Regions from separate parts of the Homo sapiens genome. Here region 2 is linked to region 1. The links come from fine-mapping of genetic effects on gene expression. A gene starts in region 1. The other region holds a variant in brackets. All regions are shown on one strand. Distances are between the middles of the regions. Region 1 holds the start of FUBP3 (far upstream element binding protein 3). Region 2 overlaps FUBP3 (far upstream element binding protein 3).

Evidence for each region.
Region 2: its variant is fine-mapped to the expression of FUBP3 in tibial nerve (GTEx, PIP 0.96).

The regions. Positions count from the first base shown.
Region 1 is chr9:130,567,478-130,582,717 of GRCh38, forward strand. FUBP3 (far upstream element binding protein 3) reads left to right here and starts at 12,100. Exons shown (of 19, transcript NM_003934.2): 1 at 12,100-12,287. The coding sequence starts at 12,204. It overlaps LOC100272217 (a long non-coding RNA gene), which reads right to left and starts at 12,017. Exons shown (of 1, transcript NR_027440.1): 1 at 9,873-12,017. It overlaps LOC124902286 (a long non-coding RNA gene), which reads left to right and starts at 12,363. Exons shown (of 2, transcript XR_007061818.1): 1 at 12,363-12,771; 2 at 13,182-14,609. RefSeq lists a silencer at 12,048-12,417.
Region 2 is chr9:130,631,214-130,645,987 of GRCh38, forward strand. It overlaps FUBP3 (far upstream element binding protein 3), which reads left to right. Exons shown (of 19, transcript NM_003934.2): 14 at 344-417; 15 at 729-809; 16 at 989-1,065; 17 at 3,454-3,525; 18 at 4,786-4,913; 19 at 5,801-7,139. The coding sequence ends at 5,809. Among named protein-coding and RNA genes, the nearest start is that of MIR6856, 12 kb to the left of the region's middle. RefSeq lists enhancers at 997-1,747, 7,039-7,634. The variant T/C (reference allele first, on the strand shown) is at 3,421.

The sequences.
Region 1 (15,240 bases):
ATTCCTTAAGGCCAAATAACATTCCATTGTATCTATATGCCACATTTTATTTATCTGTTCATCTGTTGATGGACATTTGAATTATTTCTACATTTTACCAAATGTGAATAATGCCGCTATGAACATTGGTGTGAGACAAATCCCTGGTTGTTGTTTTGTTGTTGTTGTTGTTGTCGTCGAGACAGAGTCTCGCTCTGTCATCCAGGCACGAGTGCAGTGGTGTGATCTCGACTCACTGCAACCTCTGCCTCCCAGATTCAAATGATTCTCCTGCCTCAGCCTCCCGAGTAGCTGGGATTACAGGCGCCCGCCACCATGTCCAGCTAATTTTTGTATTTTTTTTTCTTTTTTAAGTAGAGATGGGGTTTCGCCATGTTGGCCAGGCTGGTCTTGAACTCCTGACCTCAGGTGATCCACCTGCCTTGCCCTCCCAAAGTACTGGGATTACAGGCACAAGCCACCACACCCAGCCCTGATCCCTTTGTCAATCAGCGATAATTTTTGTTTCAGATGATCATAAGATTTCTATCTAATACAGGAAATGAGAAACTGTAACCCCGAAAGCCAGATGACCTCCTGCCTTCCCAGAATGAATAATCCAACCCTGATGTGTCCCCAGACCCATCTGGAATTCTGAATGGGGAAATCTAGGTAGGAATGAAGTCTGGGAACTGGAAAATGAAGGATACTTTTTGTACGATTCCACCAGGGGCCTGGTAGTCAAGAGAATGAGAGTAGTAATTTAAGATAGTGGGGTTTGGCACGTACAAGCTATTTAGCAAGCAGGCATTATGGAATAAACACGCAAGCAGAAGCTCAAAGAGAAGAAATGTTCAAAACATGACATTGTTTTCATCTTTTTAGCCTCAGAACGTGGTAAATTCATTCACACATGATTTGTTTTTGTCTACATTCACTAAGCATCTAATATATGTCTACCAGGACGGAGACTGTTGTGCTAAGCACACCAGAAATGACCTCTGACATCTTGTAACATCCAGTCTAGCAGGGGCTGCCTCATAGTAAGTGTTCAGTACGTGTGTGTGTGTTTGTTTATTTGTTTGTTTGTTTCGAAAAAGGGGCTGGCTCTGTTGGCCAGGCTGGAGTGCAGTGGCGTGATCTTGGCTCTCTGCAACCTCCACCTCCTGGGCTGAAGCGATCCTCCCACCTCAGCCTCCCAAGTAGCTGGGATTACAGGTGCGCACCACCACACCTGGCTATCAATACATATTTTGCATGAAATATTTAGTAATCATTTCTGTATGCTTCGTGGCATTTAATATGCAGCCAGTTTTTGACAAATGTCATGCTTGAACAAGTTTCTCACAATCCAAAGTGAAAAGTCTCCCAGATCATACACAAAACAAAACCAAAATACAATAGCTGGGGCTGGTCGATCTGAAGGGGATATACCCAATCTTGCAAGGGTTTCTTTGGCTGAGTTTTTCCCACAAGCCAGTGAGCTTTGTATTCACAGGCAAAACCCCGCCTGAGACACCTGTCAGCCACCACCATTACTTGCTGCAATAAAGGTATAGATGAATGTTCTCAGACTTTTTGAGGGTAGATTTGAGAGACCACCTAGAGGCCTAAGGTAGAAAATCAGGCCATATCATATGGTCAGAATTGATCCTATTTATAATAGCCAGTTAAATATATGTGAGTAACTCTTCTGTGTAAAGACCTCATTACAATGAAAGTATCTCCAGGCAATCACAAGGATGAGGGGAAAACAAAATATTAAAAATGAAAGTAAAAATATTAAAGGTTTAAAAGCTACAGTATCAGCCAGGCACGGTGGCTCACACCTCTTATCCCAGCATTTTGGGAGGCCAAGGCAGGCAGATCACTTGAGGTCAGGAGTTTGAAACCAGCCTCGCCAACGTGGTGAAACCCTGTCTCCACTAAAAATATACAAAAGTTAGCTGGGCATGGTGGTACACACCTATAATCCCAGCTACTCGGGAGGCTGAGGCAGGAGAATTGCTTGAACCAGGGAGGCAGAGGCTGCGAGCCGAGATTGGGTCACTGCACTCCAGCCTGGGACACAGGGCGACTCCATTTCAAACAAACAAACAAACAAAAAACTACAGTATTAAAGTGCATGGGAGGGAGAACAACAGCTGACAAGAAGTACTAATACAGATACGTGACTCACGCCTATAATCCCAGCACTTTTGGAGGCCAAGGCAGGAGGATCACTTGAGCTCAGGAATTCAAGACCAGCCCAGGCAACATGGTAAGACCCTCATCTCTATGAAAAAACATTATTAAAAAACAATTTCTGGCCGGGCGCGGTGGCTCACACCTGTAATCCCAGCACTTTGGGAGGCCGAGGCAGGTGGATCACGAGGTCAGGAGATCGAGACCATCCTGGCTAACACGGTGAAACCCCATCTCTACTAAAAATACCAAAAATTAGCCAGGCGTGGTGGCGGGCGCCTGTAGTCCCAGCTACTCGGGAGGCTGAGGCAGGATAACGGCGTGAACCCGGGAGGCAGAGCTTGCAGTGAGCAGAGATCGCGCTACTGCACTCCAGCCTGGGGGACATAGCGAGACTCCGTCTCAAAAAAAAAAAAAAAAAATTTTCTATGCCGGGTGCAGTGGCTCATGCCTGTAATCCCAGCACTTTGAGAGACCAAGGCGAGTGGATCACTTGAGGTTGAGAGTTCGAGACCAGCCTGGCCAACATGTTGAAACCCCGTCTCTACTGAAAGTACAAAAGTTAGCCGGGAACTGTGGCAGGTGCCTGTAATCCCAGCTACTCAGGAAGCTGAGGCTGGAGAATCCCTTGAACCTGGGAGGCAGAGAGTGCAGTGAGCTGAGATCACATGACTTCACTCCAGCCTGGGCAACGGAGCGAGACTCTATCTCAAAAAAAAAAAAAACAATCCTAGAAGGCACAAATCACAAATTGGATGGCAGAGTAGCCATAAAGCAGAGCAGAAGCCAAGAATCTTTGCAGGCCGGACGTGATGACTCACACCTGTAATCCTAGCACTTTGGGAGGCCGAGGCGAAAGACACTTGAGCCCAGGAGTTTGAGACCAGGCTGGAAAACATGGCGAGACTTTATTGCTACCGAAATTTAAAAAATTAGCTGAGCATGGTGGCGTGCACCTGTGCTTCCAGCTACTCAGGAGGATGAGGTGGGAGGGGGATTTCCTGAGCTCAGGATGCCAAGGCTGCAGTGAGCTGTGTCCACATCACTGCACTCCAGCCTGGGCGACAGTGAGACCTGTGTCAAAAAAAAAAAAAAAGGCTGGGTGAGGTGGCTCACTCCTGTAATCCCAGCACTTTGGGAGGCCGAGGCGGGCAGATGGTTTGAGGTCAGGAGTTCGAGACAAGCCTGGATAACATGGTGAAACCCCATCTCTACTAAAAATACAAAAATTAGCTGGGTGTGGTGGCAGGCGCCTGTAATCCCAGCTACTTGGCAAGCAGAGGCGGGAGAATCGCTTAAACCCAGGAGGCTGCAGTGAGCCAAGATGGCGCCACTGCACTCCAGCCTCGGTGACAAGAGCGAAACTCCATCTCAAAAAAAGAAAAAAATTCAGGAAATCGACCCAAAAAGGCTACTAGAACTAATAAGTGAGTTTAGCAAGTTTTAGGGATAAAAGTTCTATCTAAAAAGCAATTAGGCTGGGTGTGGTGGCTCATGCCTATAATCCAGCATTTTAGGAGGCTCAAGCAGGATAATTGGTTGAGCCCATGAGTTTGATGGGCAATATAGTGAGACCCTGTCTCTACTAAAAAATAAAAAACTAACCATTGCATGGTGACATGGGGCTGTAGTCCCAGCCACTCCGGAAGCTGAGATGGGAGGATTACTTGAGCCGGGGAGGTTGAGGCTATCGTGAGCTGTGTTTGCACTACTGCACTCCAGGCTGGGTGACAGAGCGAGACTCTGTCTCAAAACCAAAAACAAAACAATTAATTTCTGTACATCAGTAATAAATAATTGAAAATCAAAATGTTAAAACATATCATTTACAACAGCACCAAAAGCCATGAAATATTTAGGTATAAATCCAACAAAATATGTGCAGGATCTGTACACTAAAAACTATAAAACACTGGGCCAGAAATTAAAGACCAAAATTAATAGAGTGATATATAATGTTAATAGATTGGAAGACACACTATTGTTAAGATGTCAGTTTTCTCCAAATTGATCTATAGATTCATGATTTCAATCAAAATCCCAACAGATATTTATTTATTTATTTATTTATTTTAGAGAACAAGTCTCGCTCTGTCGCCCAGGCTGGAGTGCAGTGGTGTGATCTCGGCTCACTGCAACCTCCGCCTCCCAGGTTCAAGCGATTCTCCTGCCTCGGCGTCCGAGGTAGCTGGGATTACAGGCTCACCCCACCACGATCTGCTAATTTTTGTATTTTTAGTAGAGATGGAGTTTCGCCATGTTGGTTGGCCAAGCTGGTCTCGAACCCCTGACCTCAGGTGATCCACCTGCCTCAGCCTCCCAAAGTGCTGGGATTACAGGCGTGAGCCACCACACCCGGCCTAGATTTTTTTTTTTTTTAAGATATCAACAAGATAATTCTAAAATTTATTTGCTAAGACAAAGGAACTTGAGTAGCCAAAACAATTTTGAAAAAGAAGAACAAAGTTGAAGGACTTACACTACCTGATTTTAAGATTTACTGTAAAGCTACAGTAATCAAGACAGTATGGTGTTGGGGAAAAGATAGCTACATATGTCAATGGAACAGTATAGAGAGTCCAGAAATAGACCTACACGTTTGTGGCTAATTCATTTTTTTTTTAAATGAAGGTACAAAGGCAATTCAATGAAGAAAGAATAGTCCCTTTTACAATTGGTACTGAAACAATCAGACACCCTTATGATAACAAAATGAAGCCAGGTGTGGTGGCTCATGCCTGTAATCCCAGCACTTTGGGAGGCTGAGGCGGGAGGACTGCTTGAACTCAGGAGTTCAAGACCAGCCTGGGCAAGATGGTGAGACCTCATTTCTACTAAAAAAAGAAAAAAAAAAATAGCCAGGTGTAGTGGTGCATGCCTGTACTCCCAGCTACTGGGTAGGCTGAGATGGGAGGATTGCTTGAGCCCCAGAGATTGAGGCTGCAGTGAGCCATGTTTGTGCCACTGCACTCCAGCCTGGACAACAGAGCAAGACCCTGTCTCAAAACAACAACAACAACAACAAAGAATCTTGACCCGTACCTCACACTTGATGCAAAACTTAACTCAAAATGGATCATAGGCCTAAATGTAAAACCTAAAACTATAAAACTTCTAGAAGAAAACATAGGAGAAAATCTTTGTGACCTTAGGCTAGACAGTTCTCTTATTAGATAAGATACCAAAAGTACAATCCATAGAACAAAACATTGATAAATTGGGCATCATTGAAATGAAGAACTTCTTCTATTCAAAAGACAAAATAACAGAAAGACAAGCCACAGACTGAAAGAAAATATTTGCAAATCATGTATTTTATAAAAGACTTGTATACAGTATATAAAGAACCTTCAACGTCCCCAAATTTTTTAAAAACCCAACTTCTAAAATGGGCAAAACTTTTGAACAGACAGTTCATCAGAGAACATCTACAAATGGCAAATAAATTAGCAGAGTTGTTTGCTGAAACCAAAGCAAAACAAAATATCAAATGGCAAATAAGCATAGAAAAAGATATTCAACTTCATTAGTTATTAATTAAATGCAAATTCAGGCCAGGTGCGGTGGCTCACGCCTATAATCCAAGCACTTTGGGAGGCCGAGGCAGGTGGATCACCTGAGGTCAGGAGTTCGAGATCAGCCTGATCAACCTGGTGAAACCCTGTCTCTACAAAAAAATACACACACACACAAAATTAGCCAGGCGTGGTGGCACGTGCCTGTAATCCCAGCTACTTGGGAGGCCGAGGTAGGAGAACTGTGCGAACCTGGGATGCAGAGGTTGCAGTGAGCTGAGATTTTGCCATTGCACTCCAGCCTTGGCAACAAGAGTGAAACTCTGTCTTGGAAAAATAAATAAATAATAAATAAATAAATGAACTTCAAACCACAATGAGATGCTACAACACACCTATTAGAATGGCTAAAGTTGGCCAGGCGTGGTAGCTCACGCCTGTAATCCCAGCACTTTGGGAGGCCGAGGTGGGCAGGTCACGAGGTCAGGAGTTCGGGACCAGCCTGGCCAACATGGTGAAACCTCGTCTCTACTAAAAATACAAAAATTAGCCGGGCATGGTGGCACACGCCTGTAGTCCTAGCTACTCAGGAGGCTGAGGCAGACGAATCGCTTGAACCCAGGAGGCGGAGGTTGTAGTGAGCCAAGATTGCGCCACTGCACTCCAGCCTGGGTGACAGAACGAGACCCCGTCTCAAAAAAAAAAAAAAAAAAAAAGGCTAAAGTTTAAAATGCTGACCAGACTCAAATGTTGTCAAGTAGGTAAAGAAACTGGAAAACTGGAATGTTCACATGTTGCTTACAAGAATGAAAAAAACTGAAAAATGGTACAAGCACTTTGTTGTTTCTGTTTGTTTTGTTTTGTTTTTTAGAGACAGGGTCTCACGATGTTGCCCAGGCTGGTCTCAAACTCCTGAGCTCAAGGGATCTTCCCTCCTTGGCCTCCCAAAGTGCTGGGATTACAGGCGTGAGCCACCACGCCCAGCAATAAAACTGTTTAAAGAAATATTGGAGCCAGGCGAGGTGGCTCATGCCTGTAATCCTAGCACTTTGGGAGGCTAAGGTGGGTGGATCATCTGAGGTCAGGGGTTGGAGACCAGCCTGGCCAACATGGCAAAACCCCGTCTCTACTAAAAATACAAAAATCAGCCATGCATCGTGGTGCATGCCTGTAATCTTAGCTACTTGGGAGGCTGAGGTAGTAGAATCATTTGAACCCAGAAGGAGGAGGTTGCAGTGTGCCAAGATTGCACCACTGCACTCCAGCCTGGGTGACAGAGTGAGACTCAATATCAAAAAAAAAAAAAAAAAGAAAAAAATATATGTATGTGTATATATATGTATGTATATATATGTATATATGTATATGAGATGCTAGAAGACAATAAGAGATGCCTTCGGTCTTCTAAAGGAGAATTATTTACAATCCAGAGCTCTATAACTAGCTACATCATTAATTTTGAGGGGCCAGCTGAGTTGGCTCATGCCTATAATCCCAGCACTTTGGGAGGCCAAGACAGAAGGATTGCCTGAGCCCAGGAGTTCAAGACCAGCCTGGGCAACATAGTAAGGCCCTGTCTCTATTAAAAAATAACGTTTTTTTTTAAAGTGTGAAGGCCGAATAGATTGTTTTGGAAAAGTGTGGTACCAAAAAATTTACTAGCCAAATTTACTAAGTTTCTTTGAACTTACTTGAGAGTGTAGCACTACTCTATGGTACCAGCAGGGTGGTACGAGGCCAAAGGTGGAATCGGGGAGATATACAGTCACTTTCCTGTCAACAATGGACAGCATATTTGACGGTGGTTCCATGAAATTATAACACTGGGCCGAGCTTGGTGGCTCACACCTGTAATCCCAGCACTTTGGGAGGCTGAGGAGCGTGGATCACCTGAGGTTAGGAGTTCAAGACTAGCCTGGCCAACATGGCGAAACCCCATCTGTATTACAAATACAAAAATTAGCTGGGTGTGGTGGTGGGCGCCTGTAATCCCAGCTACCTGGGAGGCTGAGGTAGAGACAATTGCTTGAAGCCGGGAGGTGGAGGTTGCAGCGAGCCACAATCATGCCACTGCGCTCCAGCCTGGAAGACAGAGCAAGACTCGGTCTAAAAAAAAAAAAAAAAAGATTATAACACTGTATTTTTACTGTATCTTTTCTATGTTTAGATACATGAATACCTACCACTGTGTTACAACTGCCTACAGTAGTCCATATAGTACCATGCTGTACAGGTTTGTGACCTAGGAGCAATAGCCTACCCCATATAGCCTAGGTGTTGTAGTAGGCTATACTATCTTGGTTTGTGTAAGTATGCTTTGAGATGTTCACATCATGATCCATTTCTCAGAACATAGTCCCATCACTAAGTGACAATTACATATATACATATACATATGCATTCCCTATTAAAGGTAGATTCTAATTTACTCTCAGATGCTAAGACAAAGAGAACTATTCCAATCATTGGATCACTCCTATTGCTCCAAGGCATGCCTGTATCCCTCAGTCAGTGTTGGAGAGTCTTAATAATTCTATTTTTAAATTTTCAGATTTCATGCTGACATGCTCCTTAGTCTGCACTTGAAATTCCAGTGGACACTTGACATTGGAAAAGGTCTGCTCTGGGGACCTGTGAAAATCTCTAAATGGAGAATTCTCTCACTCACGATTTATCGCTATAAGCTATTTCTGCCTCAGAGATATAAACAACGCAGATCTTGGGATGGCAAGGCAAAGCTTCCCCAAATTACAAATGACCAGATGCTGAGGGTCTTTAGGGTAGTTAACGAATTCTGGAAACCACCCATGTTATATCCTTTAAAATCTACTGTACAACATTCTCCATGCTTATTTTTTTCTCTTGATGTATTTGAAAAATCATGTTACTATTCAAACATATTTGCTGTTTCTCCCTGGAGATGGACTATATTTCTCTGCCACTTGATCAGTGCTTGGCCACGGCTTGCTTTGGCCAATTAAATGTGAGCAGAAGTGCCATATGCCACCAACTTCTAGGCAAAAGCTTTAAAAGCCAATGTATGCTTCATACTTCTGCATCTTATTGACAACAGGCAAACATTCTTCAACCAATAAAACATGAACAAAAGTAGTGCCTAGCATTTGAGGAAGAAGCTTTAAAAACCAGTTCGTGCTTTGTCACTCGCTTCTTCCTCTGCCCTGATAAAGTTTAATGTTCCAGACAGAGGCTGCTATCAGCCTTGGCTGAAGAGTAAACAGGACACGTAGTGGAGGCAACACCATGTTCATGTATCCAGTGAGAAATAACCTGTATTGTTGTAAGCTACTGAGGTTTTAAGGCTTGTTACTGTAGCATAACCTAGACTCTCCTCATTGATACAGTTTCATTTTAGCGTGGCTTCTAGTTGGTAATATCTAGAGGCATTGCAATGTTATCAATAGGAATGGTTTGCAAAACTAGTCACAACCACAGTATGTGGATTTTTCTTTTCTTTTTTTTTTTTTTAGACTGAGTCTTGCTCTGTTGCCCAGGCTGGAGTGCAGTGGCACGATCTCGGCTCACTGCAACCTCCACCTCCCAGGTTCAAGTGATTCTCCCACCTCAGCCTCCCGAGTAGCTGGGATTACAGGCACCCGCTACCAAGCCTGGCTAATTTTGTGTGTGTGTATTTTTTTGTAGAGACAGGGTTTCACTATGTTGACCAGGCTGGTCTTCAACTCCTGACCTCAGGTGATCCGCCTGTGAGCCACTGCACCCGGCTTTTTTTTTTTTTTTTTTCGAGACAAGGTTTTGCTCTTCTTGCCCAGGCTGGAGTGCAATGGCACATTCTCAGCTCACTGCAACCTCCGCCTCCTGGGTTCAAGCGATTCTCCTGTCTCAGCCTCCCAAGTAGCTGGGATTACAGGTGCCCTCCACACGCCTTGCTACTTTTTGTATTTTTAGTAGAGATGGGGTTTCACCATGTTGGTCAGGCTGGTCTTGAACTCCTGACATCGGGTAATCTGCCCGCCTCGGCCTCCCAAAGTGCTGGGATTACAGGTGTGAGCCACCACACCCGGCCGAATTTTTCTTTTTTAACCTCTAAGAATCTTTCCCTGTCTTCTTTGGACAAGATCATCTCATTCATTCATTTCACAAATACTGAGAGCCAACCAAATGCCAGGCATTGGTGCTAGGTGGTAGGGAGAGCAATTAACAAGACAAACATAGACCTTATGTCAGCAGAGGCTTTATTCTAGTGGAAAAGGCAGACAATAAACATATAACTGCATGATGATTTAAAAGCAACTGTGATAAGTGCTATAACAAGATGATGAAGTCTAGGGTGTTAGTAGAACAATTAACAGTGAACATGACAAGCTCAGGGTCATCTTCATCTTCTGTGCCCCCAAATATAAGTGACCTGCTCAAAGTTAACCAGTAAAAGAGGGGAAAACAAAACTGTCTTCCTACTTAGGGATTCTCTGGTCTTTGGACCAAACCTTGGAATACAACTTACATTTGGGCCAATAGCCTTGTTTTCCCTATTTATACTCATAGGGAAAGCCAGCTGGAATATGCATGAATCAACATTCTAACCTCAGAGATATATTTCTAAAATTCAAAACAGAAGTTATCACTGATACTTGGTTCAGCTGAACGACTGTGTTCATGAAAGTTGATACCATTGCCATTCCTTGATTTTTACAAGCATAGCAAACTTAAAACGCTCAACACACCCAGAATGGGCAATAAATGGATGTGTTGGCATGGTCCTCCTCGTGCTGGCACTTCAACAACACAGCAAGCTATGTACTTTTGAACAGGGGTTGGAACATTTTTTCTGAAAGCAATCTTCAATCTTGCAATTTTGCCAAATTCTTTTATTTTGCCATAATCTATGAATTATTCTACTTGGCATTATTGAATGCAAAATAAGTTTACTAAGCACCTACTATGTGCCACACCCTAGGGATACAGGGAAAAATAAGTCTCTGCTCTAAAGTAACTCACAGTCTAGGAAAGAAGTCATTAACAAATAAATAACTATACTTTGGTTATTGGTCAAGTATTCCTCATACTTCTTTAGAATGCCCAAAGCTCTCTTGGCATAATGACACAGTGAGGGGTGAGGGTGGGGTCATCAAGGAAAGTTATATGGGACTTTTTTCCCCAAGAAAGGGTCTTGCTCTGTCACCCACGCTGTACTGCAGTGGCGTGATCATAGCTCACTGCAGCCTTGACCTCCAGGGCTCAGGTGATCCTCCCACTCCAGCCTCCCAAGTAGCTGGGACTACAGGTGTTTGCCACCACGCCCAGCTAATTATATTTTTTGTAGAGACGGGGTCTCACTATGCTGCCTAGGCTGGTCTTGAATTTCTGGGCTCAAGAGTTCTGCCTGCCTTGGCCTCCCAAACTGCTAAGATTACAGGCGTGAGCTACCGCACCCGGCCCGTATTGGATTTTATTTATTTCCTTTTCTTGGTGCTCATCCTCCTTCACAACTTCAAGATGGGCATAAGATGTTTGACAACATGGTTCTTCATTAAGTCCAACTCCTTATCATAATAGGGCTTGGGAAATATTAAACACGAGGGCAATCGTGCTAACACAAAAATGGGCGCCCCCTAAACCTTGTTACTTGTTTGCTCACTTATAAGAAGAGCCAACTCAAAGGCTCAACTGAATTCTAGCACTAAGATTCCTTCCTTGCTGTAGAAGATCTGTACCTGGTCACTTCCATTAAAGTTACATAGGCGTTCCAAGAAGCCTCCTGCAATACAGTTGTGACTCAGCCGGTATGGGAGTAATGACGGTCCTGTGGTATTTCCTGCACCCCCAGAGTCCCAGAGTTTGTTAAGGACCGTGTAAGAGGACACCACGCTGGCTTTTCAGTGGGCGCGTCTCTCCTGGGGGCATCACCAGACAACCCCAGGCGGAAGTGGCGGTGGCCCATCCTCATGCAAACTGCAGTGTAAGAACTGGGGCCCGGGACTCCTCGCAAATGTGGGACACTGACATTCTGTGATGCTGTCCCAATGCCCTTTCAAAGCGCTCAGCCCCCAAATTCCCAACCAACAGCCATTTCAGGGAGGGGCTACCCAGGACCAGGCTTTTGATGAACCACGACTGTTCGGGGTGCCGTCTTGGGAGAGCCACGTCAGTCCCTCTGAGATTCCAAACGGCCGACAGCGGACACCTCGGGACCACATCCAAGCCTCGGGGACCTGTCAAGACGCCATCGACGGTCCTGGACCAAATCCCGCCCGGGAAGGGAAGGGTCGCGACCGGACCCTGGAGACCCACGGCTGCCTGGCGATCTGAGCCCACCCCGGCGCTGCCGTCCCGCCCCCACTTCCGATCGGTCGAAGGTCACGTGCCCTGACCCCGCCCCGCAGACGCGACTCCTCCAGCTGCGAGCGTCCCGGCTTTCCCTTCCGCCGGAAGTAGGGCGACTTTCCTTTTCCGGCTACGGGTCCCCAAGCGGAGCGGGAGGCCGGACCGGGGAGCCGAGCGGCGGCGTCGGCGGCGTCGGCGGCGGCGGCGACGGCGGCGGGGGCGGTAATGGCGGAGCTGGTGCAGGGGCAGAGCGCTCCTGTGGGGATGAAGGCCGAGGGCTTCGTGGATGCCCTGCACCGGGTCCGGCAGGTACGGGCGCAGCCGGCTGGCAGGAGCACGAGATCCCGAGGCGGGGCCTGGCGGGCGGGGAAGAGGGGTTCGGGCCTGGGGGGCGGGAGGCAGCCTGAACCGACGTCTCAGCCGGGCCGGGCCGTTCCGTGGAGTTCCTACAGCCGGGAGGAGCCGGGGGGATAAGGCGCCACTGCGAGGCCCAGGCCCGGCCTGTCGGGCGGGTCTCCCAGGTGCCTGAAGTCGCTGGGAAAGGGTTTGCTTAGAGCGTCTGGCCCCATCGTGCCCCAGCGGCCAGCCTGGACCCACAGTGTAGCTAGCGCGGGGTTCTGAACCTCGCGAGGGGAGGGGTCCGGGAAGCCCACGGGGAGGATCTGGGTGTAGACATAAAGCAGCTGTCTGACGCCCAGTAGCTTGTTAAAACTTGGGGAACATCGTCTTTAGACTTTCTGTTGAGTAGAAGGAACTCGAGGGCATCTTATATGTGAGGGTGCTCTTTGGAGAGGTGAGAGAGGGAGGTGTTACATGTGTGGGGGTGGTCCCCAAGATGTAGAAATTTCTCATGGCAAGCTTGCCTCTACTGGGGAGAATGATATGGCCTCATTCCGACATTGAAACTTTACTGTCTGACAATGTCGTGCATTTAATCAAAGTTAAATTAACTGGGTTTTAGAAGGCTCCAGGCTTCCCCAGAGAGTGAATATGGGACCTGCCAAAAATACTTACTGGCTTCTGGCATGGTACTTAGAACAGAACGTGTTCTTCATTTGTATCTAAAACTTACTTACAAGTCAGCCCTAACACTTCAGCTTCCTCGGTTAAGTGTCTTATGTCCTCCTCTCTTCTTATGTAATTGTAAGCGCACTGATACTTTAAAAGTTGGGCTATAACTAATTACTGCTTGATTCCTAACAGAAAGCCACAGGAGTCATTGTATTAGAAGAAGGTCTTCACTCGGGCGCTTGAAGATATGGTCTTTACATCTCTTTCCAGTATTCCAGGGGAGGGAACCCTACCTGTTTCCCTGATAACTGACTTTTCATGTTATATATTGATGCTCCTATAGACATTATATTGGATCCCAGAACTTTCCAAACCTGTGGTTCCACCTAAAATTTTATCTGATGAATTGTTACTTTACTGCCTAGCTGCCAACCAGTACAGTAGTGAGTATCCATCTTACTTAGACTTCAGATCCACCCATGGCTGTAATGGATGAACATGCCACCCAGCTCCCCTTCCACCACTCTGCTTGCTGGCGTGTTACAGTGCTCTCCTCTACAGTACAGGGTCCTGAACCTTGTTTCTCACTGGCTACTAATATGTAATGGCTTTCGCTCTGTGCTGATGTGTGACAGTCACCTTGTTGGCCTTCTATGTCCGGGAAGAATTATAGTCACTGCCCTAAAGGGCTCAGATCCTCAGTTTGCAGAAGGCCTGTAGTTGAACATAAAGTGAATTTTGAACCATTGAGAAGACATTCCGCTTCTCTTGAGCCAGTGGTTGAACTCATATTCTTGGACAACCTGCTCCAGAGGGAGACCCTCTGGTAAATGCTGACCTAATGTGGATTGTTGAAGCAGTGGTGTTTACTACTAGCAGTGAAAACTTCATTGGAATTGTTCTCAGCTCTGAAATGCACCATTGACTGGAGCAGTAATAAGCCCAATGGAGACAGGGCTGTAAGTGTGTTCCTTCTGAATGTTAACAGCTGGAGGTCCATACTATCTCCAAGGATTTGATGGCCTTTAAAAACTAAAGAAAAACCAGGTTGGTGGGTAATTTTAGGTTTATTGTATATAGATTTGCATTGGGCAAGAACGGAATGTTAGAAATCTGTAATACTGTATGCTGATGGTAAACTTACTGTAAGGATCTCATTTGGGTATCTGGAAGGTGATAGTTCTGTTTCTTTGTTATATACACAGCATGTTACAGAGATGTGATTTTTCTCCCCATTAAACAGAACTAAAAGACAGTATATTTATTTAAACGCAAAGCTTTTTCCCCTTTTATGTCTCCTCATAAACTCCAGAGACAGTCTGGAAGGCCCTCTTAAATTTGTCAAAGAGCAGTAAAGTGTCTCACGCTCAGTTTTTCTAGCAGATCGTAATACTCTCAGTTGACCCTGCTGGGATTTGAACCTGCAGTTTCTATTAAGTTTGGTGTGTGAAGTCCAACACCTTATCAACTAGGCTTTCCCTCTGACATCTTGAAGCCTCCGTGTATATCCTTTGGACTCTGCAGCAAAGTGCATCAGTTGTTAGTTTACTCTGAGCATGGTATTCTTAGATTGAAAAGAAGTCTCTGAAGATGTCAAATAAAATGTAAACATTTTCTCCAGCAGTGTGAAGTCTAGTGAGTTAATGTTTGGCACAAGCAGGTAATTTACATCCATTCTATAGGGTAGTAGAAATGTGATCTGGGCAAGTCACAGTGGCTCATGCTTGTAATCTCAGCACTTTGGGAGGCTGAGGTAGGAGGATGGCTTGAGCTCAGGGGTTTGATACCAGCCTGGGCAACATAGCGAGACCTTGTCTCTACTAAAAATTAAAAAAATTAGCTGGATGTGGTGGCCCACCCCTGCAGTCTCAGCTGTTTGGGAGGCTGAAGCAAGAGGCTAGCTTGAGCATGGAGATCAAGGCTGCAGTGAGCTGTGATTGCTCCGCTGCATTCCAGCCTGAGTGACAGAGTGAGACACTGTCTCAAAAAAAAAAAAAGAAAAAGAAAAAGAAAGAAATGTGATCTCATTCAGTTCCATGGATGAAGATCTAAAAACTGCTGGATATTAAAAAACATCTGTCTACTTTTCCCAAGTCATTGGCTGGTTAGCAGAAGTAGTGTTTCTTCAACTAGTTCAGATAAGACAAAATCCTGAGTAGTTCATCCTGTTCCACAGCCGTCCTCTGCACTTCTATACTGACTGTCTGCCTAGGTTACAAGGGGACCTCTGGATGAGTAGATCCAAGTCTGG
Region 2 (14,774 bases), 64 kb after region 1:
GGCCACTGCTCACCTCAATGGGGACGTAGAATGGCAGAAAGAGCCTTGGGCCAGCCTAAGTTGACGGGAGAGTCAAGCAGGTTGGTCCCTACCCCCAGGGTGATGCCAGGGCAGTTGTGGTGGTGCCAGGACTGGCTGTGTGGTGGTATTGGTCGCTGGAGGGCAGAAGCCATTTCTGCAGCGCAGCCTGCTGTGGGAAGGAAGGCTAGTGTGAGTGCGTAGGTGTCCTTACTTCACTCGACTCCATCTCCCCAAAAGCTGGGCTTTGCCTCGGGGTGGGCCTGGGCAGAGGAAAGAGGTGTGCAACCAACAGCGGGTGAGAGCTCCCTCTGTGCCCCCACAGGGGACCAATCTCGGAGCACCTGGAGCCTTCGGACAGAGTCCATTCAGCCAGCCACCTGCCCCACCTCATCAAAAGTGAGTCTTTTGCATCAGTCTTGCCTGGGAGAATTCACTCGCTCCCCAGAGATCCCCTGTCGTTTCCAGCTACTTCTAGCGAGTGCCAGCCAAGGCCTGAAGTTCTGGGCGTGGGCAGGACTCGTTTCTTTTCCTCTCACCAGCGGTCCCTCCGGCCTATCACTCACTGACCTCAGCGATGGGGTGGGAGCCTCTCAGAGGGCAGAGGGTCTTCTGTCCCGACTGCCCCCTCAGTGCCCTGGGGCTGCGGGGAGGGGACGAGCCCTCTGTTGTGAGGCGCTCAGTCTGTTGTTTCTTTTACCTTTTCCCAGTACCTTTCCTCCAAGGAGCTCCGGGTGCTTCCCAAACATGGCTGCCAAGGTGAATGGGAACCCCCACAGCACCCCTGTGAGGTAGGTGACCTGCTGTGACTCAGTTGGGGACAGACGGCACTAAGGTGGTCACTTGGCTATTGCCGACAGGCAAGGGTCCGGTGATGCTTGGCTGGGGTGAGGGAGGTGAGCAGTGAAGAGGGAGACGACAGGGGTGACTTGCCCCCTATAGGAACGAGTGACCCTCTTGTTATCCACAGTGGTCCTCCGGCCTTTCTGACCCAGGGCTGGGGCAGCACCTACCAGGCGTGGCAGCAGCCCACACAGCAGGTCCCAAGTAAGTGACTCGGGGCGGGGAGTGCATGCCCTCCAGAAAGGTTGCGGCCCACAGAAGTCCTGGGGCCAAAACGCCCTCGTTCAACTCAGCCAGCAGGCCCAGGATGCCCCTCCCCAAATGACAAGGAGCCCTCTGGGTGGGGCTTGGGCCCTCCTGCAGGCCTGTACCAGGGGTTGTGCATGCTCAGAAAAAGGCCCCAAGGGAAACTGCACAAACCTCAGGCGGGCTGGGGACTCTGGGCTGGCCCTCTCTTGGCCCACCTGTCCTCAGAGTTCTGGGCCTCTGTCACTTTCGTTCCCTATGCATGGGTGGGGATGGGTTGAGCCAGCTTCTGCTCCTCCTCTTCTCCACCCCTTGAGGGGCTGGTTCCTGGCCCTCCAACTCCCTGCCCCTGCCTTGGGTGGCTGCCTTCCTCTCCCCTCTCAGGCTTCCATCTCCTGAACTTTTCAGAAGCAAACAGCTAGGGAATGACTTCTTCTGCATCCCGCCTCTCCAGGGAGGCTGGTTGTGAAGGAGAAAGTCCTGGTGGGAATCAAAGCCGCCACCCTCTCTGTCCCCACAGACGCTTCAGGAACCACTGTTGGGTTTCAGAGCTGGTCTAGCCCCTCTGGCATGGCCTTCACAAAGCAAAGCAGAACCCTTACCTTAGTACGATCCACGTTCTTTTGACCCATCTGGAGTTTCTGTCCTGTGTTTAGAAAGGCTTCTTCAGTGTCTGCAGATTCCCACAGCACCCAGGCCGCAGGCCCCGCCTCACAGCCTGGCTCGGAGGGCCTGAGCCCCCTTTCTGGGGTTCTGCCACTTCAGCCTTACACAGAGTCCTGAGGCCAGTGCTGTGTGGCCTTAGGCACGCCCTGCCTTCTCTGGAGCTCCACTTTGCCACATGTAAAATCAAGGGTTTGGGTTTGAATTCTAAAGTACTTGCATGCTCTGAAATTGTATAGTTGTGTTTCTTCCCTTTTTTTCCCCAGTATCTTATTATGAAACGTTTCAAATATCTTAGAACACTCTGCAGTGAGCACCCACAAGGCACCCAGATCCCACCATCCATCCCCTTTCCCTCTGCTCGCTTGGCCATAGGGGCTAACCCTGTTTCCTTTCCTCGGCTCCTCACCTGCTGTTCTAGTCTGAGATAATCCTCCAGGCAGCAAGGTGGCCAGGATTGACTCTGGGGACACTGAGGCCTGGGAGGCCTTCAGGGGAAACGGCCCCCTGGCGGGTGGAACGGGCAGAGGCCTGTGGGCTGAGGAAGGGAGAGTGCAGGAGGCACCCGGTGGTCTTGCCGCCATTGGGCAGCCTTCATCTCATGTTGTGGAGCTTGGCTTTTTTTGTTTATTCAGGGGTTTTGCAGTGGAGAACCGGTTTGGGTTGGTGAAATACTGTTTGGCGGCGAAGTCCTGCTTGCCGGCGCCCTCCGCGTCCGAGGGAAGAGTGTTTGCTGCCTGTGTCCCTCTTTCGCCCTGCCCCTGTGGGAGGAAGCGGGGCGTCTCCTTCCCTCCTTCCTCCCGCTGCTTGCTTCTTCCCCACGCTGCTCCTCAGTATGCAGTAAAGTGAACTAGTGGAGAAAGCATTTGGCTGCATGCTCTCTGCAGTGGTTTGCCCTTCCTCCCTGCTTCAGGCTACAATCCTTACAGGAGACGAGACAGTGAGGGGGTCTTTTGTGGGCCTTGGCAGGTGGACACCTGAGCCAGCCCCGGCCTGGGCAGAAGGAGAGGTCCTGACCCGCCACTGTGGTCAAGTCTTTGAACCCCCTCTTGTGCCTGGCAGGGTGCTGAGGCTCTGTTCCCCCATGCTGGCTGTTTCTCCGCGTCCCCCAGTCTTCACTGCCCACATAGCCTAGAGGGTGAACCCAGGGTCCTGCACAGAAGAGAAGGGCTGGACCACCCAAACACATGCACCCCCTTTCCCTCTGCCCTACCCCAGCTGGCCTGAGGCTGGACAGGGTCCAGGAGCCCACTGGTGCTGCCTACCCCTGCTCCACATGGCCCCTCCACTTCCCTTGGTCCAGAGGCACAGCCCCCAGGCCTTGAACAGAGGGCCACGCGAAGAGAGTGGTCAGCAGCCTCTGGAGTCTTTGTCCTTTGGAAGGCTGATTGGGGAGCCTCAGAACAGCAGTGGCTGTGGCCGTCAAGCTTGCGTCTCCATCTGAAGAGGGTCAGGCTAGCCTTGCTAGTTGCCTCGTGTGCCCAGCCCCACCCTTACAGTGATCTTAGTTACACCCCTTCCCCCAGCCCTGCCAGCTGCCACCTCCTTCCCAGGCAGGGCTGCGGAGCCGTGTGTGGCCAGGAGCGAGGTGGAGGAGTGCAGGGCAGGGCCTGCAGCTGGCGGGCTGGGGCCGAGGCTGTGAGGAGCCCG[T/C]AAGGCCTGACTGCTTTTGTGTTCTTCGCACAGGCCAGCAGAGCCAGCCGCAGAGCAGCCAGCCCAACTACAGCAAGGCCTGGGAAGACTATTACAAAAAACAGAGTGAGTGCCCGGCCCTCCTAACCTGTGGCAGCACAGTCCCCTCCAGCCCAGAGACTTCAGAGTCCAAGGCTCACTGTCACCTCTTTTTTCCCTAATGCCTTCCCTGTGTGGCTTGATCTCATTATTTGCCTTCGTCCTCCACCCTGTACCTGCCTGCTTCTTTCTGTCAGGAGTCTGGGCATAGTCAGTCAGTGACCACAGGCTGCCCTGCGACTCGGCACATCCCCTCCTCTTTATTCTCCCCGTGCTGGGCTCCAAAGGACTTGAGGTGGGCGTGGCACCTGGAAGTGTGGGCTCAGCTGGCGTCTGGTCTCCTTAGGGACTGAAAGATTCCGGCTGGGTGCCACCTGGCCGGCAAACAGACCAACCAGACATCTTGTTCTCTGTCTTGGTGCTTCAGGGCAGATGAGGAGAGGTGGTGAGATTCAGGGAAGGAGGCCTTACCTGGGCATTGGAGCTGGGTGCTTAGTTTCTCTTCTTAAGTAGGCCCGTTTTCTAACTACCAGAAATGAAACCAGCCTTCAGAGCAGGGCGAGGGACCCAACAAGCAAAAGGTCTCTGGGGAGTCACATAAAATCAGGACCAGACTCTCGGGATATATCCCACGATTACTAGACCGGAGGACTGAGGGCTTGTTTAAAGAGGTATCTCACGTGCCTTGTGTTTGGAGGATGTTTCTTGCTGGTTGGAAGAGATCGGGTTGAAGGCTACCAGAGAAGTGGTCCCCCTGGTGTTGGCATCATCGCCAGGTTCATGGCCCTTCTAGGGGTTGGAGGTGGGGGTGTTGAGTCATGGTCACCAGAGTGCTGTAAGCTCAGCTGCCCAGTCTTCCCCAAATCCCAATTCCCAGACCCCTGGGCCTGTGTTGAAGCTGTTCACAGGATTTGGACACTATCACAGGCACCCAAGTTAGGTACTCCCCTTCTCCCCCACCCCCACCCCAGGATCCCCCCTTCTCTGTCTGTCACAGGGCCCTGGGAGCTGAAGGGGCAGGCAGGGAGATGCAGAGAATGCGCTTCCGCAGAGAGAAGGCAGGCGTGAGGATTGGTCTTCACAGGCATAGCAGGGGCCGGGCAACAAGAGGCTAACAGCACCTTTTGTAGCAAGCGCTCCTGCAACACCAGCCTCACCTCACTGCCTCCCAGACCTCCCTGCCTTCCAGCCGTCCGGAGGGAGAGCAGATGCCCAGGGCCTTTGGGAAGGGTCCTGCCCAGTGCACCTCCGCTCCCGATAACCTGTGTTTCCTCCTTTGTCAACCAGGTCACGCCGCCAGCGCTGCTCCTCAGGCCAGCTCCCCACCGGACTACACAATGGCCTGGGCAGAATATTACAGACAGCAGGTCGCTTTCTACGGACAGACGTTAGGGCAGGCGCAGGCCCACAGCCAGGTCTGTAGCTGATCACCAGCACCGCTGCCACTCCCTAGCCCCGAGCCCCTGCTCCCAAGCCTTCTGTGTTTCCTGACCCCAGGATGAGAGCGCTGGGCTAGGAGGAACCTCTGGGCGCCATAGCTCCTCAGCGAGGCTGCTTCTGCTGAGAGCCCGGCTCCAGCCCCTCTGTCCCTCCTCGCTCTGGAGAAAAAGAGTTTAGGCCAAGTGGGAGGATTGGGGGCGCAGCCCCTACAAGGAAGTGCCTGAACTTTCCTCAAGTCCAGGCCCCAGACCTCAGGGCTGATTAGTAGTCTCTCTCTTCCTCTAAGCCTCAGTTTCCCTAACCGTAAAGGAGCAAGTGCAGAGGGTGCGCTCCGGCGACTGCTCTCGAGGAGGGTGGAGTGGCCAGGCCGTCAGCCATGCCCGGGCAGCAGCAGGAAGCAGTGAGAGGGCAGGGGGGCAGAGCCCAGCTTTCCTCTCCTGTGCACAACCTAGAGGGTTCTGTTCAGAGGCCAAAAACGGATTTCTTATTAAAGAAGGGAAGACGTCCAAATGTTCCCACAGGGCGCATTTCCCACCTGATGCCAGTCAGGTCCTCATGGATAACATTTCAGTTACCTCCTGGCCCTGGACTCAGCTGGTTGGGCCTCTCACTGCCAAATTGGCCGTCTGGGTCTGGTCCTGGGGAAACAGGTGTCAGGGCTGGTGGTGATGGAGGAGAAGCGTGGCTCCCACTGTCCGCTCTTCCCTGCCCCAAGTCCCTAGTGGAGAGAGAAGCCCAAGACCTCTTCAGCAGAGGTTTTGTCTGGCCCAGCTCCCGTGACGCGAGACCTGGGGGAGGTCACTGGCACACAGACCTGAGAACCTGCCATCACAGACTAATTCCTCTTCCCTTCCGCCCACAGGAGCAGTAGGACAGCGTCCTCGTGGCCAACTCTCCCCTCAAAATCATTGTCAAAGAAAACCTATTTGTAACAGAGGTTTTTACATTTGCAAACCTTTTGATGAAGAACTGTTGTTTTGTTCTGTGAAACACTATATTTAGATTAACGGAATTTTTCTAAAAATCAGGAAAATTAGTTACTAAAAATTGCTGATCATTTTTGTTTCATTATTTTTGTTATTTCAAATGTATAAGCTCTGGGATTCTTTTTGGAGCAATACCTACAAAGTCAGGCACCAGAATGTGCCTCAGAGCTGTGACATTTCAACATGATGGTTTTGGTTTGGTTTGGTTTTGTGTCCTTTTTATTTGCAGTTTTTTCTGTTGCAACAGAAAGTGGCTTGGAAGTCTTAGGTGGTATGTAACAAATTCTTTTTAAAAATTTTAAAGCAGTATTTAAGTATTCTTAAATGTGTAAATTCATTTAATGTTTTACTTCTAATTTCTTGTATCTTGGCTGTCTGGTTTTATTGCATTTTTAAAAAAACTGAACTATTATGTATTGTAATGAATGATGTGAATTCTGAACTGAGACAGATAATTGTATTGCTGTCCAACAGGGGTTGGGAGGGGCATTTTGTAGGGTTTGTATAATTTCTAGAGTTCGAAAGGGGTAATATAAAAATGTGCTCGTGTGTTTAGCCTACGTTTTTCTCATGCCTCCATTACCAGTTGCAATTGTGTATCTAAGACCTCCAAGCTTGTTTTTAAAACAAAACAAAAAACCTTTCTCTATTATCTCAGAAATATAAATACTGTTATTTTTAATATTAAGAAATTCAATATAACTTTTAACACACACTGTGGAACATTAAACCGTATAAAAATGTAGTTATAACTATTTTTAATTCCAAGGTGTTGTTTGCTTTTTTCTTTTAAATATTTTCTTAATATTTTGTCAGATTAACTAGATGAATAAATAAATCTAGTATTAACCGCATTATGAATTAAATAATTTTGATTTAATGAAAGGGATAATATGATTTCCAGTGTTTACTGTAGTGTATCTTGTACAGATAACATGTATTTTTAAAGGAAAAAAAACGGAATTGAAGCTATTTTTTCTTGCATTTCTAATTGACCTGAGGGACATTCCGTTTGAAATGTACTGAAGTTACAGTTTCTGGTTTTTTCTCCTTATTTTTCTTATAATGCTTGAAATGTCTAACTATTAAAAAAGACAATTGGAAAATGTTATGCATGGGGTTTTTAAGAAAACAAAGTGTTCTTTTTATTTGACTGACAATTCATTTTACACTCTATATAATAAAATCTCCACAAGGCATCTTGTGGGCAAAGTCTTTCTGGCCTGTTTGCTTTCCATTCGCCGGTTCATCCCTCTGCCCCTGCCCGCGGCCGCCCGAGAGGGAAAGAGGATTCCTGCGGGCCTCGCCCGTCATCTTGCACCGCGTCCACCCGCCTTCGTTGGTGCACAGTCTAGATGTCTAGCTAGTTCGTTAAGCTAATTTTATGTTAATGGCTCTGTATGATTTGACAGCTTGACTTGAGAGCCGTGGTTGGGCTCAGCTCCCCTTCCCTGTCACAGTCAGGCATCTGTAAGTGAGAAGTCAGTATGGGAGTGTCATCGGATGGAGCTGGGAGATGCATTGAAGGGCGTGCGGCGGGTCAGCAGACTTCTGCGACTGACTGGGCAGCCCCTTGCCCTCCGCCCGCTCCCCTTCCCTGCGTGCCCATGCACACACATTCGCCTGCAAATGTAGGTGGGCTGCCCTAGGCGCGGTGTGCTTCCCTGACTGTTGCTGCCTGCATCCCCCACCTCCTTGTCCCCAGCCTCACCTGTGGCTGTGGTGGTGGTGCTTTCTCGCTCTTAGCCCCGTGCCCACGGTGGGACACCAGATCGCCAGGAGGGCTGGGAAGCATCAGCACACGTGCTCGTTATGTCCTGTCCTTTCATGAAGAAACAAATGGGGCGTCCTTCCCCAGAGGTGTTAAGTTACAGTCCTGTGGTCTTAGGACTCGTGGCGACAGTGTGGGCCTCAGACTTGGAAGGGCATTAAGTAATAGCATCAGCCCTCGCCTTTTTTTTTCCTTCTGTCCCGTTGGTTGGGGTGACTGGCATTGAGCAGTGTCTGCTTTCACGTCTGAGGGGCCCTGCCTTCGCCCTCAGGCTTTCTGTGCGGGTCTCTACTTAGATATAGAGACCTGTTTCCATCCTGAACGGGGCTTGCTGGGCTGTGCCTGGCCAATACCGGCCCCTTGTCTGTACTCCAAGCTTCTGACAGGAGGGGAAAAAAGCAGCTGTGGCTCCTTCAGGCCGAAAAGGGGTGTGGAGAGCAGCCCATCTGCGGCCATGGCAGGCCTGTTGAGAGCCGGAAGACAAAAAGGAGATGTGGCATTTTTAACTGCACCTCTAGAGAATCGAGTTTGACGTTGAGAAATTGAATAGTAAAAGGCACTTGGAAAGTGGGGGGAGGGGGCCGAGTGGGAGGAGGGCGTAAACGCTGATGACGGTAATGGGAATTCGGGAGAGGGCATTACAGAGAAGACTTCCTTCTAATTCATCTTCCAAGCTCTGTGCCAAAACAGCATTTGGCATGGTTCACAGGGAGCGATTGTGTGATAATGAACCCTAAGGTGTCCCTTAATTGAAGACTGAGCATTGTGGTTTGTGCCAAGAGTCATAAATGGCGCAGGCTTGCGGAGGATGCATTTTCTTAAATGTATCGGTAAGTACAGATTAGCGCTTGTCCCCAGTGAAATGCCCATACTATAAATTATGGAAATCTCTCTTTCTCTCTGATGCAATCTTTTATTGGGGGGAGGGGGTGTGGTACGACAGGAGGCGGGGGGGGAAAGTTTGCAAGCATATGAAATTTGGCCTCTCATTAACATGGCGCCCAAGGAAGATGATTTTCATCAGCAGTCTGGTGTACTGGAGGCTAAAGTGCTTGAAATGTACCAAGTTCAGCGGTTGTGTTCCATTAAGAAAGATGCATGGTCATCACTGTAAGGGCGGTCGGGGTCCGGGAGGCGGGGCGGGCGCTTGCCCAGTCTGTCTTCTGAATGCATGCCCCACCCCCACCCGCCACCGCCCATGCCTACTGGGTCTCTGCCAGCCTCCCAAGTTCAGGATCCATCAAGGACCCTGCTGAGCCGATCCCAGCCCCACCCAGAAGTTTGGGCTGGGGTTGAGGAGTTCTCAGCCAGCGGGCCTCAATCAGTACCCCTGGCCTCCCATCAGATAGGAGGCACCATCTTTCCAGGGTCACTCGACAGTGGTGACCACCCATGATGTCCCAGAGCCCCCAAGGTAGGGTCGGCTGGGGCACAGATGGCACAGTGCAGTGCCTGGTCCATGAGAACGTGGGTCACCCCAGAGCCGCAGCTTCTAGCTGGCTACAGCCCCACTCTCTCCCAGCCCCACTTCTGGTCCACTAGGGCCCAGCTGGGGTTTTTTAAGATGGGCTGAAGCAAATGGGCCTGATAGATGCTTAGAGATTAATGGCCAGAAAGTGGCTTGACACTCAATTCCGCAGGGGGCTGCAGGCCCTGGGTCTGTGTCTTGGGTAGGGTGGAAGGGGAAGCAAAGACAACCCTCACTGCCCTTGAAACAATGGTCATCTTGGCTGTCCTTTGTCTTGAAGGTGTTTCTGTAGCATCTACCAAGGGGGTCCTGGCCCTTTCCAGGTACCTGCTTCCAAGGTGGTCTCTGCACCCTGGGAGGTAGAAAGGCCTAATCTCCCCATTTCACAGAAGAGGGCTCAGAGTCAAAGGCTGAGACCTGCCTTTATTCACACGGGCATGGAGGGGCCAGTTCTGTGCCAGGTTCTATGCTGCACTCCGTCTGGGGCTTCAGAGGAGAGCGTGACCACCGCCTCCTGGGGGCGCACTGTCTTTTGTAGTCACCACCAAGGGAGATGGTTGGCAGGATGGGAGAAGATCTTGAAAGTTAGGGTTGAGTACCAACTTGGCCAGCCCTGGAAGTGCACTACAGTCATTCATCATTTTCAATTCCGTATTTGCAAATTCACCTACTCACTGAAACGTATTTGCAACCCCCAAATCTACCCCCACAGAGCATCTGCGGGTCATTCACGGTGAAAAACGTGAGTTACCGGATGCACGTGTTCCCAGCTGAGGTGGAAAAGGCGGCGCTCTGCCTTCTGGTTTCAGCTCTCGTGTCATAAATAAGCACTTTTCCTTGCAGTCTACTTAGTGCCACAGTTTTTGCATTTTGTGCCTTTTTTTTTTCTTTTTTGACAGTTTTACTGTCTAAAGTGGCCCCCAAGCATGGCACTAAAGGGCCATCTAGCATTCCTAAGCATAGGAAGGCTGAGGTGTAGCTGATGGAGACAATATATGCGTTCTGCCTCTTGCAGGCCTGAGTTACACGGCTGTTGGCCACGAGTTCAATGTTAATAGGTGAACAATATACATATTAAGTAAGGAGTATTTATTTTTATTTATTTTTTATTTTTGTTTATTTATTTGTTGAGATGGAGTCTTGCTCTGTCACCCAGGCTGGAGTGCAGTGGCACGATCTCGGCTGACTGTAACCTCCGCCTCCCAGGTTCAAGCAATTCTCCTGCCTCAGACTCCCGAGTAGCTGGGATTACAGGCGCCCACCAACATGCCTAGCTAATTTCTTTGTATTTTTAGTAGAGATGGGGTTTCAGCGTGGTCAGACTGGTTTCAAACTCCTGACCTCAAATGATCCACCCATCTGGGCCTCCCAAACAGCTGGGATTACAGGCGTGAGCCACCGTGCCCGGCCAATGAGGGGTCTTTAAACAGAAACACACATAAAACAAGATTATGGAGTGCTGATGCATGCCTGTAGTTCCAGCTACTAGGGAGGCTGAGGGAGGAGGATCACTTGAGCCCAGGAGTTCGAGGCTGCAGTGAGCTATGTCCGTGCCTGGGAATAGCCACTGCATTCCAGCCTGAGCAACACAGCAAGACCCCATCTCTTAAAAAAATAAAAAAGGGGCTGGGCGCAGTGGCTCATGCCTGTAATCCAGCACTTTGGGAGACCGAGGTGGGCAGGTTGTCTGAGATCAGGAATTCGAGACCAGCCTGGCCAACATGGTGAAATCCCGTCTCTACTAAAAAGACAAAAATTAGCTGGGTATGGTGGTGCACGCCTGTAATCCCAGCTACTCGGGAGGCTGAGGCAGGAGAATTGCTTGAACCTGGGAGACAGAGGTTGCAGTGAGCCGAGACTGCACCACTGCACTCCAGCCTGGGCAACAGAGCGAGATTCCGTCTGAAAAAATAATAATAATAATAATAAAATAAAACAAAATAAAATAAAAAAGATTATCTATAGATTGGTGTGGACACTGGCTTGCAGGAACCTTGCCTTGTATTTCCCTTAGGAACAAGGGTTTAGTATTTGATGATTCAGTATTTGCAGAGACTTTATATATCACTACCATGAACAACTAGAATCCACTGGCTCTTACTTTCCTATAAGGAAAATCCGACTCTTATCCCATTTTGGAGATGAGGAAATAGGGTTTTGCTTGTCTGTTTGTTTTTTCTGAGATGGAGTCTTGCTCTGTCACCCAGGCTGGACTGCAGTGACATGATCTCGGCTCACTGCAGCCTCCGCCTCCCGGGTTCAAGCAATTCTCCTGCCTCAGCCTCCTGAGTAGCTGGGATTACAGGTGCCCGCCACCACACCCAGCTAATTTTTGTATTTTTAGTAGAGACAGGGTTTCACCATGTTGGCCAGGCTGGTCTCGAACTCCTGACCTCATGATCCACCCGCCTCGGCCTCCCAAAGTGCGGGGATTACAGGCGTGAGCCACCGCGCTCGGCCAAGGAAACAGGTTTAAATAGGTTCTGATCAGAGTCATACCATGGTTGTGCACATGTGACCTGAGAGGTAACCAGGACTATGCTCCCCATTTTACAGATGAGGGCTCAGAGAGGCTGGAAACTGTCCTTACTCACACAGGCACGGAGGGGCCAGTTCCATGGCAAGTTCGTGCTCCACTCTGCTGGGGTTTCAGTGGAGAGCTACACTCTTGCTGAGGCCTCCTCAAACCTTAGCCTGGCTGCGATACCGGCCTGCCTTGCCACACCCACACACGAGCAGAGCCAGGCACATGTGCAAGGAATGCCTCACGTGGTTCTAGTGGGGCCTGGCGAGTTCAGCCTACCTAAGGCAGCAGGGTGTGAGGCATGAATGTGTGGACACTTAAACTTGGGTCTGAGTCCTGCCTGCACCTCATATGACCTAACCTCTGGTATCCTAAGTGTGGGGCTAGCAGCCACCTGCCCGCCTGTGGGGCTATGATAGGAGTCAATGGCACACAAGTAAAGCGCTTCACACCTGGTTCTTAATGGGCACTCAAAAACTGGCAACCGGCCTGGTGCAGTGGCTCACATCTGTAATCTCAGCACTTTGGGAGACCGAGGCGGGAGGATCGCTTGAGCCAGGAGTTTGAGGCCAGCCTGGGCAACGGAGTGAGACCCCACCTCTACAAAAAAAAAAAAAAAATTCTAATTAGCCAGGCATGATGGCGCATGCCTGTAGTCCCAACTACTTGGGAGGCCAAGGTGAGAGGATCCCTTGAGTCCAGGAAGTCGAGGCTGCAGTAAGCTGTAATCATGCCACTGCACTCCAGCCTGGGTGACAGAGCAAGACCCTGTCTCAACAAACAAGCCAAAAAAAGCCGGGTGCAGTGGCTCTTGCCTGTAATCCCAGCACTTTGGGAGGCCAAGGTGGGTGGATTACCCAAGGTCAGGAGTTTGAGACCAGCCTGGTCAACATAGTGAAACCCTGTCTCTACCAAAAGTACAAAAAATGGGCAGGGTATGGTGGCAGGCACCTGTAATCCCAGCTACTAGAGAGAGTCTGGGCAAAAGAGTCACTTGAATCCAGGAGGCAGAGGCTGCAGTGAGCCGAGATCGCACCACTGCACTCCAGCCTGGGTGACAGAGCTAGACTCCGTCTCAAAAAAAAAAAAAAAAAAAAAGCCGGGCGCGGTGGCTCATGCCTGTAATCCCAGCACTTTGGTAGGCCGAGGCGGGTGGATCACGAGGTCAGGAGTTGGAGACCATCCTGGCTAATATGGTGAAGCCCCGTCTCTACTAAAAATATGAAAAATCAGCCGAGCATGGTGGCAGGCGCCTGTAGTCCCAGCTACTGGGAGGCTGAAGCAGGAGAATGGCGTGAACCTGGGAGGCAGAGCTTGCAGTGAGCAGGATCGCGCCACTGCACTCCAGCCAACAGAGCAAAACTCCGTCTCAAAAAAAAAAAAAGAAAGAAAAGAAAAGAAAGGTTCTTCCCTAACTCCACTTCTTCAGTCAAGGGGAGAGAACGATCAACAATTTCCTTCAGGCAAAGGGAACCCACAGGCCTCACTTTTGTTCCCAACTTGGACAGATGACTTTCTGTGACTTGGATAGATCAGCTCTCTTGATCTGTTTTCTTTCCTTGGAATTGGACCACACAAGTGGTTTCCAAATTATGGTAGGTTGGTGTCAAGGATTTCATGGTTGTTTAATTCACATTTCGATAAAACACGTTAAATATTAAATGCATTTAAACTTTTTTTTTTTTTTTTGAGACAGAGTCTCACTCTGTTGCTCAGGCTGGATTGCAGTGGTGTGATCTCGGCTCACTGCAACCTCCGCCTTCCAGGTTCAAGCGATTCTCCTACCTGAGCCTCTCGAGTAGCTGGGACTACAGGTGTGTGCCACCACGTCGGCTAATTTTTGTATTTTTAGCAGAGTTGGCCAGGCTGGTCTCGAACTCCTGACCTCAGGTGATCTGCCTGCCTCAGCCTCCTAAAGTGCTGGGATTACAGGCGTGAGCCATTGCACTCAGCCTTAAACATTTTTAAAAACAATTTGTAACCATAATGTTTTTTAAAAACACCATGCACTCAAGTACATTATATGCTGCACTTTCTTTTTCCCTTCCTTTTTTTTTTTTTTTTTTTTTTTTGAGAGGGAGTCTCTCTCTGTCATCCAGGCTGGAGTACTGTGGCATGATCTCGGCTCAGTGCAACCTTTGCCTCCCAGGTTCAAGCAATTCTCTTGCCTGAGCATCCTGAGTAGCTGGAATTACAGGCGCCCACCACTATGCGCTAATTTTTGTATTTTTAGTAGAGACGGGGTTGGCCAGGTTGGTCTCAAACTGGTTGGTCTCGAACTCCTGACCTCGTGATCCATCCACCTCGGCCTCCCGAAGTGCTTTGATTACAAGCTTGAGTCACCGCGCCTGGCCAAAGCTGTATTATTATTATTTTTATTTATTTATTTATTTATTTATTTATTTATTTTAATTTTTATTTTTTTGAGATGGAGTCTCGCTCTGTCGCCCAGGCTGGAGTGCAGTGGCACGATCTCGACTCACTGCAAGCTCCGCCCCCCGGGTTCATGCTATTCTTCTGCCTTAGCCTCCTGAGTTGCTGGGACTACAGGCGCCCGCCACCACGCCCGGCTAATTTTTTGTATTTTTAGTAGAGACCGGGTTTCACCGTGTTAGCCAGGATGGTCTTGATCTCCTGACCTTGTGATCCGCCCATCTCGGCCTCCCAACAAAACTGTCTTAATTATTGTACCTTTACAGTAAGTCCTTCAGCTTTGTTGTTCTTCAAGATTGTCTTGGCTACTCCCAGCCCTTTGCATTTCTATACAAATTTTAGAATCAGCTTGTCGATCTCCCAACCCCCATAAAAATATTTTAAATTTGCTGGGATTTTTACTGGGATTGCAATGAATCTATAGATCAATTTGGGAAGAACTGACAACCTAACAATGTTGTAGATTCTTTTGAATTTCCTGTTTTCACAGTCAGATCATTTATGAATAATGATGGTGTTATTTTTTTCTTCCCAATCCTTATGCCATTTGTTCTTTGTATTGCTTGACTACTCTGGCCAAGACCTTCAGTATCTTGTTGATTGAAAGCCATGAGAGTTGTCATTCTGGTCTTGTTTGTAGCCTCAGAGTGTATG